2 separate regions of the Homo sapiens genome follow, and region 2 is reported to be linked to region 1. Evidence: microRNA targets listed by miRTarBase, many of them from high-throughput screens and not tested one by one. Region 1 holds a microRNA gene; the other region holds the end of a gene's coding sequence.

Region 1 (5,520 bases):
CTGAAAAACACGTTTCTATGAATATCAGTGTTGGTACAATTCTTGTGAAGGTGGTTACATTTGTGCGTGTTTACAGTGGAGTTGGTGGGGTCAGTAGGAACCTAGGGTCAAAAAATGGGATACAGTCTCCCCCTTTATGCAGTTGATCTTTTCTTGCTGCCCCAAACCTTCCCGAGAGCTTCCCGGAAAGGTGTGCTGACTTCAGGCGTGACACACTGGTAAGGCGTCCTCCCGGGGATCTGGGTGCATGTTGTCCCCAGAGCATTCATACGTAAGTGACAGGCATCACCTGGTCTCCCTCCATCCCCACGGAGGGTTCTGGGTGAGACGCTGACTCCGGAGGGAAGCAGAAGTTCTACGGTCAGTGGGGTCTGGTCTTTCAGGACAGTTGCTTCTGTGAACTCAGAAAATCTGAGACAGCTCTTAGTTAATTTAGAAAGTTTATTTTGACAAGGTTGAGGATACACCCGTAACACAGCTTCAGGAAGTACTGTGGTCAAGGCACAGCTTGGCTTTATACATTTTAGGGAGACATGAGACATCATTCAGCACATGTAAGAAGTACATTGGTTTTGTCTGCAAAGGTGGGACAACTTGAAGCGAAGGCAGGAAGGAGGGAGCTTCCAGGTCACAGACAGGTGATACACAAATGATTACATTCTTTCGCGTTTCTCATGAGCCTTTCCAAAGGAGGCAAATCAGATACGCATCTGTCTCAGTGAGCAGAGGGATGACTTTGAATGGAATGAGAGGCAGGTTTATCCTGAGCAGCTTCCAGCTTGAGTTTTCCTTAGTGATTTTAGGGGCCCGAGATAACTTTCCTTTCACACTTCCAAGGCTATTGATGAACACACAGGCATCCAGGAACATTCTGGGGTTCAGTCCTTCCTCAGACTCTGCTGTTGATACCTTACATGGTTCCATGCTGGCCCCAAGGACGTGCCCTTCGTTGGTGCCGAATGTCATTTGGTCATAGAGGCTGAAAGTCATTCTGGAGTTGATGTTTCCAAGGTCAAAAACCTTGCTGGGGCTGTGGAAAGAGCTCGTTGTTTGCTGGCCTGCTTTGTTGGTGACCAGCATTGCACATGGCTTTCTTTTCAGATCAAACCCTACCTGGAGAATTTCCAGAAGCAACAGCACCCTCAGGAGGCGGCCTGCAGCCGGAGCCCTCTCCAGGGCAGGTGCCTGAGGGCCGCCCATGGGACAGGCCCGATTGTACCCACGGTGCATGTCATCTGTTCCACTCCTGCTGACTCCGGTGCGTTCCGGGACCACCTTGGGAGGTGATGCCTGCCCCAGGAAGGAGGCTCTGATGCAGGTCAGTGCCCATGGCTCCTGAAGGGAAGTCGTCTGTGACATCTTTTCTTTCTTTACAGCAGGCCTCGCATGGCTGGCCTCTTGCTCCACTTGTAGCAAGGCGCAGAGGGCTCTCTGAGCTCATGCCAACGTCAGGGAAAGGATTCTGCTGTCGGTCCCACTCCAAAGTTCACAGAATGGGTGGTGGGCACAGAATCTGGACTCTGCTTGTGGCATCCATCGTCTGGCCCGATGCTTGCTGGCTGCCCGCTCCAGGAGGCACCTTCTGGGTGTTCTCTGAGTCTGGGGAAGGTTGGGTTCTGAGGTCAGGGCTGCCCTGACCCTTGTGAAGAGAAGACATCTGTGACTCACCTGCTTTCTTCTGCTGCATTTATCCCCCCAGTCCCTTATTTTGAATGTCTCACTTGCTTTATGAGGCTAATCAGATGGTCAGCCAGCTGTTGATAACTGTGAAGTTACTCTTTGAGGGATCCTGGGGTGATGCCTCTGTGGGCTGGAGATGGTGCTGGTGAGACCGCAGGTCTGGGGTCAGCGTTGTGCCCCGTTGAGCTCCCGCCAAAGGAATCCTCTGCTGGGAGGGAGGCTCTGTGCTTGTGCAGGGGTCCCTACAGGGTCACCCCCTCTCAGGGTCTGGGAATGAAAAGCGGGTGCGAGCAGGGTTTCATTTTCATCTTTAGCAAGGTGCCCAAGGAAGGTTGCCGTCTTTTCAGTATAAGATCCTACCTGGGTCTTGCACTCAACTTCTGGGAAGAGTCTCTAGATTCATTCTGGAAGGGGTTGGAATCGTTGGACTTGGTGATTGGGAACGTCCTTGGAGAGTGTGAGGCTCTGGGCTCTGAATGCCCAGACCTTGTGCTGCCCTTGGGGGAGGGTCTTCTGCAAGCACAGCCGCCTGCAAGCATTCACCTTAGTCCGAGCATCTGAGCCTCTCCATGGTACTCGGGGAGAGGTTACCCGAGCAACTTTGCATCTGGACGACGAATGTTGCTCGGTGAACCCCTTTTCGGTATCAAATTCCACCAGGGAGGCCGTCTTGGAGGCTGGGGCACCTCGGGGAAGGACGCCGGCATCAGCACCATTCTGGGGTACGGGGATGGATGGTCGACCAGTTGGAAAGTAATTGTTTCTAATGTACTTCACCTGGTCCACTAGCCGTCCGTATCCGCTGCAGCCTGTGGGGCCTGCGGGCCGGGGAGCCGATCGCGCTTCAGCTCAGCGCCTTTCCTGGTACTTGAAGGGAGATCGACCGTGTTATATTCGCTTTATTGACTTCGAATAATACATGGTTGATCTTTTCTCAGTATCAAATCTCACCTTGGAGGACCCGTTGGAGATGAAGCCCTTTTGAGGGTAGGAGCAGGACGGGTGCTTTGGAGTCGCTGCCTCAGTGGGGCCTGGTCACCGAGAGTGGGCCGGGCAGGGGTCTCTTTCCTGTCTCTGTGTCTTCTCACCTTTGATGTCCCATCCGTCCTCAGGACTGCTTCCCGGGGGCAGCGCTGGCACCACGGGACGCGGCAGCCACGTTCTTGAGCCGATGGCACTCTGGGTACCTGAGAAGAGGTTGTCTGTGATGAGTTCGCTTTTATTAATGACGAATATAACACAGATGGCCTGTTTTCAGTACCGCTACCGCCCGGTGGTGTGCGGGCGCCACGCCTGAGGCGGGACTTTCCAGGGTACGTGAATGCATGGGCTGGTGTGACATTTGTCATCCTTTCCCCTGACCCCCGCCATTGAATCATTTTGGGAGAGCTTTCGGGGGGCCATGTGGACTTTGGGGAAGATGCTAGGGTTGTGCACTGTGGTGGGGGGCGGTCATGAAGCTGATGAGCAATGGTGACGGGGCTCAGTCTGTTTTTCATGGCCAGTGTCATCGAGGCAGAGGACACGGGGGAGCTAGTCCCGCTGGAAGGCATCCTGCTGGAAGGCCACCCACCCCTCGCCAGGATGTTGGGGGCGGCTGCATGCATTCCCTGCACCTGGGCTGCCTTCTGCTCATCTCAGTGCTGTGAGACCCTGGGTGGGAGCTGGTGCCTTGGGTGGCCGTGTGCGTGTGCTGCTCCTTGTGGTGCCTGAGGAGAGGTGGCCTGTGTTGCATTCACAGAAATCATGACACACAAGACACGAGCGGCCTCTCTTCAGTATCAGATCCCACCTGCATGATTCCTGCACCTGCTGATGTCGGGGAGGTCCGGTTGCGCGCCCTGTGGGCCCCCAGAGGCATGGCTGGTGGCCGAGCACGCGCTTGACTTCCACCTGCAGCCCTGTGCTGGCCTCCATCCTGGAGGCGGGTGGGTGGCAGGGCCCTTCCCTGTGGAAGAAGCCTCCTCCCTGGAGTCAGTGCTGCTCAGTGGTACCTGAAATAGGTTGCCTGTGAGGTGTTCACTTTCTATATGATGAATATTATACAGTCAACCTCTTTCCGATATCGAATCCCACCTTGGATGCCTTCCTCTTTGCTGTCAACTCCAGGCAGCAGCTGGCTCTGCGCTGGTTGACCCTGTGGACTTTGTGTAGGACCTGTGTCACTTGGCCTGTTAATTTTCCAGCTCCACTCTGTTCTGGGGGGCTTTGGAAGTGTGACAGAATGGCATCCCCAATTCCAGTGTCAGCGGGAGCACCCGCCATGCCCTTGCTTCCGGTTGGCACATCCCCCAGGCTGGGCTGGCTCTCAGCTACCCGATGCTTATGTCATATTTGCACCCCTGGCCTGCCCAGACTACAGGAAGATGACCAGAGGCCTGTTTGCAGCTGACCTGGAGACTTAGTGACTCCAGAACATGCTGCCCATGCCCAGGGTCCAGGGCTGAAGGCAAGGAGCACCTCAGGAGTGACCCCAAAGAATGAGCTAAGGCTGTCCTTTATCACTCATTGTTGATCAGTGAGCTCCTGGGCTCGGGAGATCTTCCTGAGCTGGGCTCCCGTCATCCCCTAGTTGAGACGTCGCTGCCTTGGAAGTCACAGCCTGTGCCTGCCCTCCCCCTTGTCCTCCTCCTCGGGACCGCTCCTCTCCATGCCTAGCATGGGAGTGGGGATCCCTGGCACCATCCCTCTGGGCTGCCTGCTCCCACTCTCCCTCAGCACCCCTCTTCCCCAGCCCCTGGGCCACAGCCCTGCTGGAGAGGCCGCCCCACAGGCTAGGTCCCTCCAGCCTGTGGCACTTGGGTCTCCCTCCAGTGCCCCTCCCTCTGCCAGGGAGAGCATTTCCAAGTGCAGAGTCCAGCTGTTTAACTCCGCTGCCCAGGGCACCTCTGCAGGCCCCTTCCCTTGGGCTTGGTACCAAAATGATCCGAGGACCCCCCAGGCCCTCAGAGTGGCAGCCCCCCTCTTCTTTTGGAGCCACAGCCTATCCCCCACGTGTTTTCATCCTTCATTCTGGCCTTGCACATGCCCCTCCTTCCGGAGCTGGGTCCTGGGCCGCCCTGCTCTGCCCTCGGCTGCCTCCTGTCCAGGCTCTGGCCCTTCCTTCCTTAAAGGCCCACATCCTTTGCATTTTCCTTTCCCAGGGGTTCACAATTCCCAAGGGGATGGAATGGCTCTTGTTCAGCAAGGTCATCCCTGATAACCCTATAAAAGCAGCTCCCCTTGCCTCTTCCCTATCACATTCTACCAGTTGCCCCGTTACTGTTTTCTTCCTAGCTTACAGTTCTCTGAAATTGCCTAATGTTAATGTCTACCTTCTTTGTGCCCTAGACTGTGAGATTTCTCATTGGCAGAAATTTCTCTCTCTCTCTCTCTCTCTCTCTCTCTCTCTCTCTCTCTCTCATCCCCTGCTGTGTTCAGTAGCAGAACAGTGAGTGTTTGTTGATTGACTAATGGAGTCCCCAAAGGCAGGGACCGGATCAGATGAATTCCCAGGCAGGTGCTGGGCACAAAGCAGGCAGTCAATAAGATGTGGTGATGGAGTACATGAATATGTTAATTGATTTTTAGAAATTCTTCCCATTTGTTCAAAGCTGTTTGGTTTTCTAGCTTTTTCTGCCCTTCCAGGATGAGGCTGAGATTAGCTGCAGGAGGCACGAGTCAGTTGGGTCTGGGTTCTCTCTTCCACTTGTCGGGGGGTGGGGGCACCAAAGCCCCAGAGGAAGTGACAGGCCCTGTGTTCCCCTGCAGATGCCGACTGATCGCGCCCCCGCCCCTCCAGCAAACGCCCCAGCGCTGAGAGCCAAATGCTCTGGGGAACTCCATCTGCAACGGGCTGGA
Region 2 (5,000 bases), not on the chromosome of region 1:
TCATCTTTTTTTATAAATGATGTTAGGTTGTTCGTCTCTACCTTAATCTTCGCACATTATGTGGTGCATGTTATGGTTAACCGTCTTCCATTATAGTTTTTGTGTGTGTGTGCCTGAAAGTAGCTTTAATATAGTGGCTAAATAAACCCTCCAAAATAAAAGAAAATCAGTAACAATTTGATCAGGGTATGAGAGGATTTCTAGTAATGCTCAAAGCTTGCCATGAAATCTTGGCATCTTGATTCATTCTTAGGCTGCATACAAATCGTAGAGAAAAGATAAAACGGCAAATTTGAGAGTAGAAGTCATTTTTTAATAAAATTCTAGTATACCTATTAGCCAGTGGAACCATTATGGTAAACCAGTTTGTGGTTATAGAGCACTAAGTTTCTACAGGCAACTTGAATAAACATAACTTGGGTCCATTTTGCATACAGCAACATCTTTACCTTTTTTTTCATTTTTTCTGTAGGGCAATGTGTATGTGAAGTGCCCATCAATTGCTGCAGCTATTGCTGCTGTCAATGCATTGCATGGCAGGTGGTTTGCTGGTGAGTTTGAATTTATTTTTTGACTGATTGTTATTAAGGCTCTATAATGAAGATGCTAAACCCAACATGTCTGTTTCTTTTAATAGGTAAAATGATAACAGCAGCATATGTACCTCTTCCAACTTACCACAACCTGTTTCCTGATTCTATGACAGCAACACAGCTACTGGTTCCAAGTAGACGATGAAGGAAGATATAGTCCCTTATGTATATAGCTTTTTTTCTTTCTTGAGAATTCATCTTGAGTTATCTTTTATTTAGATAAAAATAAAGAGGCAAGGATCTACTGTCATTTGTATGCAATTTCCTGTTACCTTGAAAAAATAAAAATGTTAACAGGAATGCAGTGTGCTCATTCTCCCTAAATAGTAAATCCCACTGTATACAAAACTGTTCTCTTGTTCTGCCTTTTAAAATGTTCATGTAGAAAATTAATGAACTATAGGAATAGCTCTAGGAGAACAAATGTGCTTTCTGTAAAAAGGCAGACCAGGGATGTAATGTTTTTAATGTTTCAGAAGCCTAACTTTTTACACAGTGGTTACATTTCACATTTCACTAATGTTGATATTTGGCTGATGGTTGAGCAGTTTCTGAAATACACATTTAGTGTATGGAAATACAAGACAGCTAAAGGGCTGTTTGGTTAGCATCTCATCTTGCATTCTGATCAATTGGCAAGAAAGGGAGATTTCAAAATTATATTTCTTGATGGTATCTTTTCAATTAATGTATCTGTAAAAGTTTCTTTGTAAATACTATGTGTTCTGGTGTGTCTTAAAATTCCAAACAAAATGATCCCTGCATTTCCTGAAGATGTTTAAACGTGAGAGTCTGGTAGGCAAAGCAGTCTGAGAAAGAAATAGGAAATGCAGAAATAGGTTTTGTCTGGTTGCATATAATCTTTGCTCTTTTTAAGCTCTGTGAGCTCTGAAATATATTTTTGGGTTACTTCAGTGTGTTTGACAAGACAGCTTGATATTTCTATCAAACAAATGACTTTCATATTGCAACAATCTTTGTAAGAACCACTCAAATAAAAGTCTCTTAAAAAGGCCACAGGAGATCTTCATTTTTCAAATGTTTTAAAGTTACAGAAATTTGAGAACAGAATTAGCTTCTTTTAGTCTCAATTCAGTACTTGCCTCTTGGGAAAATGTTCCGAGTCTGCGGAAACTTGCCCTCACGTTGTCCCCCATGAATTCCTTTATTCTATTAGAGTCTAGCCCTGTGTATTTTAGAAGAATGTATCAAAACTGAGGGGTTTACCAAAAAGAAAAGGAAACAGCCTGGCCTTAAAACCTGGGCATTCTTGGTCTCCTGCATTGTCTGGGCATATTTATGAAGAAATTTTCACCATTTACAATACATACTTAACAAAATGGCTTAACTTCAAACTGGTTTCCAAAATTGATTTATATATTAATATATTAAATAAGGTGCATATATTACTGTATTAAGGGGTTTTGAGCTTTCATACTAGTTGGGAAGCAAGCTGTCACCATTTATACTCAATTCTCTTCAACTGTTTATCTCTTGGTAAATCTTTTGAGTAGGAAATGCTGCTCCTAGCTTATCTTCAAATACTGAGTTCCTTACCTCATTTGTTCAACTTTTTTTTTTGTTAGCATTGAAGCACAAGTTTTACAGGCTTATTCAGAATTTCATATCAGTCGTTTTGTTTGACATTTATCCCAATAATTGTTCTAGTGATTTAATTTGTATGGAAACTCCCAAGGTTCAATTTCTTTTTCTTTTTGAGATGGAGTCTTGCTCTTTGGCCCAGGCTGGAGTGCAGTGATGTGATCTCAGCTCCATCTCCCAGGTTCAAGCAATTCTCCCACCTCAGTCTCCTGAAGAGCTGGGACAGGTGCGCACCACCGTGCCCAGCTAATTTTTGTATTTTTAGCAGAGACGGTGTTAGCCCGGCTGGTCTCACACTGACCTCAAGTGATCTGTCCGCCTTGGCCTCCCAAAGTGCCGGGATTACAGGCATGAGCCACCGCGCCCAGCCTCATTGAAAATTTACTTTTCAATACCAGACTGCAGAGTTCTTTGGGGCAGAGACACTCTGTCAGTGTGCTCTTTTTCCAAAGTATCTCCTGCTATCAGTTTTTCCCCTTGAACCAAGTCTTCCTAACAAATTTGTTGTGTCATTGCTTTCTAGGGAACTGGACCAGCAAATGTGGCCTTTAGTGGTTAATCTCATCTGTGCCAAAATTTAGTTGCTACCAGAGTGAAATTTGGTGTGTAAATAATGTTCAGAGGAAATGTGGTTGGAGTGTAGTAACTTGAATAGTGTCGTGCATAGAAAACAGCTCATTCTGAGTGAAACTGTTTATGTCCAATCAGTTCCTGAGTCAGCATCCCACTGGTTCGAAAATCTGTAACTAATCTGGTAATGTCCTTAATTTCCTCCTGCCTGTCAGTGTTCCAAAGTGTTCATCTAGTTTTCTTTTATCTTTATAATAATTACTACCATCTTTGAAAGTTCTGTTTAAGAAATGCTTAATGGGCAATGCGGGTTAGTAACTCCAGGGTCTGCGTGGCCTGGGCAGGTGAGATGGACAACTGCCTCATTACAGAAGCTTTTTATCATCAAACTAGTAAGTTTTGTGGAGGGCAAGCTATATAGATTGTTGATGAGTGGTTAGAAAATCATCTGGAATTTAGCCAGTTGAGAAGCTACAGAAGTTTCTATTTTTTTTTACAGTGGATGAACTGTTTTGCTTTTTCTGATAAAGCCACTAGGTATATCTAAATAACAACCTCGGGCTGGACGTGGTGCCTTATGCCTGTATATGTGAACACTGGGAGGCGGAGGCGGGTGGATCATGAGGTCAAGAGTTTGAGACCAGCCTGGCCAACACAGTGAAACCCCGTCTCTACTAAGAATACAAATTTTTTTTGTTTTGAGACAGAGTCTCGCTCTGTCGCCCAGGCTGGAGTGCAATGGCTCGATCTCAGCTCACTGCAACCTCCACCTTCTGGGTTCAAGCGATTCTCCTGCCTCAGCCTCCCGAGTAGCTGGGAATACAGGCGCGTGTCAACACACCCGGCTTAAGTTTTTGTATTTTTAGTAGAGACGGGGTGTCACCGTGTTACCCAAGATGGTCTCCATCTCCTGACCTTGTGATCCACCAGCCTTTGCCTCCCAAAGTGCTGGGATTACAGGCATAAGCCACCGCGCCCAGCCTAACAATACAAAATTTAGCTAGGCATGGTGGCACGTGCCTGTTATCACAGCTACTCGGGAGGCTGAGGCAGGAGAAACGCTTGAACACAGGAGGCAGAAGTTGCGGTAAGCCGAGATCGTGCCACTGCACTCCAACCTGGGCGACCAAGGAAACAACCAACCTCAGGATGAACATTGCTTTGGAAATAATGCAATGTGTGACCTTGAGGAAATTTCGGCTTATAAATCCATTTTTTGAAGTAGTTTTTCTCCTTTAAAATGGTGACCGTAGTAACAAGCACAGAGTTGTACTGAGTAATTAGTTGAATAGTATCTATGGAAAATACTAGACACTCCCAAGTTTTCCAATTTTGGATTAAGAGAGGCAGGCCTTGTGAAAGAGATACTAACCCTAGTCATTACGTTAGTCCATCTCTTTAGTGCAGAAGATCCTTGGCAAAGCTGGATAATAGGCTGAGAGAAGAATATTCCTTTAAGAGAGGGACACTGACTACTCAAAGACTTTCTTTTATTAGTACATGGGCTGGGATTGATGGGAAGGGACAGATGTAGTTGGCAACCATGGTTAGCATCGGATGCCCATCCCAATGGCCATGAATGTGCCAAAGGTGCCGCCACTCTGCATCATGGTTTTCCCAATGCCGCCCATCAGCTCTCGACCCCGCATTCCGATCCTGAGGAGGAAACCAAGATGGAGCTATTTGGTAACAAAAATATCAGAAAGAGTATTAACTGCTCCTTTCCAATTTTTTGCTAACACTAGTCTAGCAACCCCTACATCTGATTTTCCACTTACTGGATATTATATCTTACTACCTGGGGTGGGTAATGAGAAGGAAAAAGATCCATCTGGGTCTCCAGGGTATTTTTCTGGTGGATGTCGTATTAACTGCCTTCAGTTTGTGGGAGGCAGCAGATGCAGTGTAAAATACATAGAGAAACCAGCTTTTTTGACTGGTGTTGCCTGCAGTTTAAGACCCAATAAAGACATCTGTCTTTTAGTTTCTTGGTGTTAATGATTTTGGAGTAAGGTGGGGGTTCAAGAGTCAGCTCTACAATTTACACATAGTGTCAAGTGTAAAATGGGCATCTCAACATTATTTACAGGATTTTGAAAACTACAGTATTTAGCACAGTGCTTAACATAGAGTAAGTGCTCTGTAAATGATAATTTACAATCTAGGGATATGGCAATAACAGCCTCTAAATGTGAAAATGACCTTTAGAGTGTAAAGTTTAACTGCTTTATCTCT

Evidence for each region. Region 1 holds the annotated microRNA hsa-miR-369-5p (AGAUCGACCGUGUUAUAUUCGC, at 2,557-2,578, shown strand). A microRNA usually pairs through its seed, bases 2 to 8, with sites in the 3' UTR of a target mRNA and lowers its output. Matches are read on the target gene's strand: a 7mer-m8 pairs with bases 2 to 8, a 7mer-A1 pairs with bases 2 to 7 and ends in A, and an 8mer does both.
Region 2: the mRNA of RBM39 is a reported target of hsa-miR-369-5p. The part of its 3' UTR that is shown has no 7-base or 8-base seed match.

What each region holds. Positions count from the first base shown.
Region 1 is chr14:101,063,050-101,068,569 of GRCh38, forward strand. MIR369 (microRNA 369) reads left to right here and starts at 2,549; the gene lies at 2,549-2,618. It overlaps MIR541 (microRNA 541), which reads left to right and starts at 1,446; the gene lies at 1,446-1,529. It overlaps MIR409 (microRNA 409), which reads left to right and starts at 2,251; the gene lies at 2,251-2,329. MIR412 (microRNA 412) reads left to right here and starts at 2,398; the gene lies at 2,398-2,488. It also overlaps MIR410 and MIR656.
Region 2 is chr20:35,700,219-35,705,218 of GRCh38, reverse strand. RBM39 (RNA binding motif protein 39) reads left to right here. Exons shown (of 17, transcript NM_184234.3): 16 at 473-551; 17 at 638-3,872. The coding sequence ends at 738. ROMO1 (reactive oxygen species modulator 1) reads right to left here. Exons shown (of 3, transcript NM_080748.3): 3 at 4,239-4,421. The coding sequence ends at 4,313. Among named protein-coding and RNA genes, the nearest start is that of ROMO1, 3.3 kb to the right of the region's middle. RefSeq lists an enhancer at 4,981-5,000.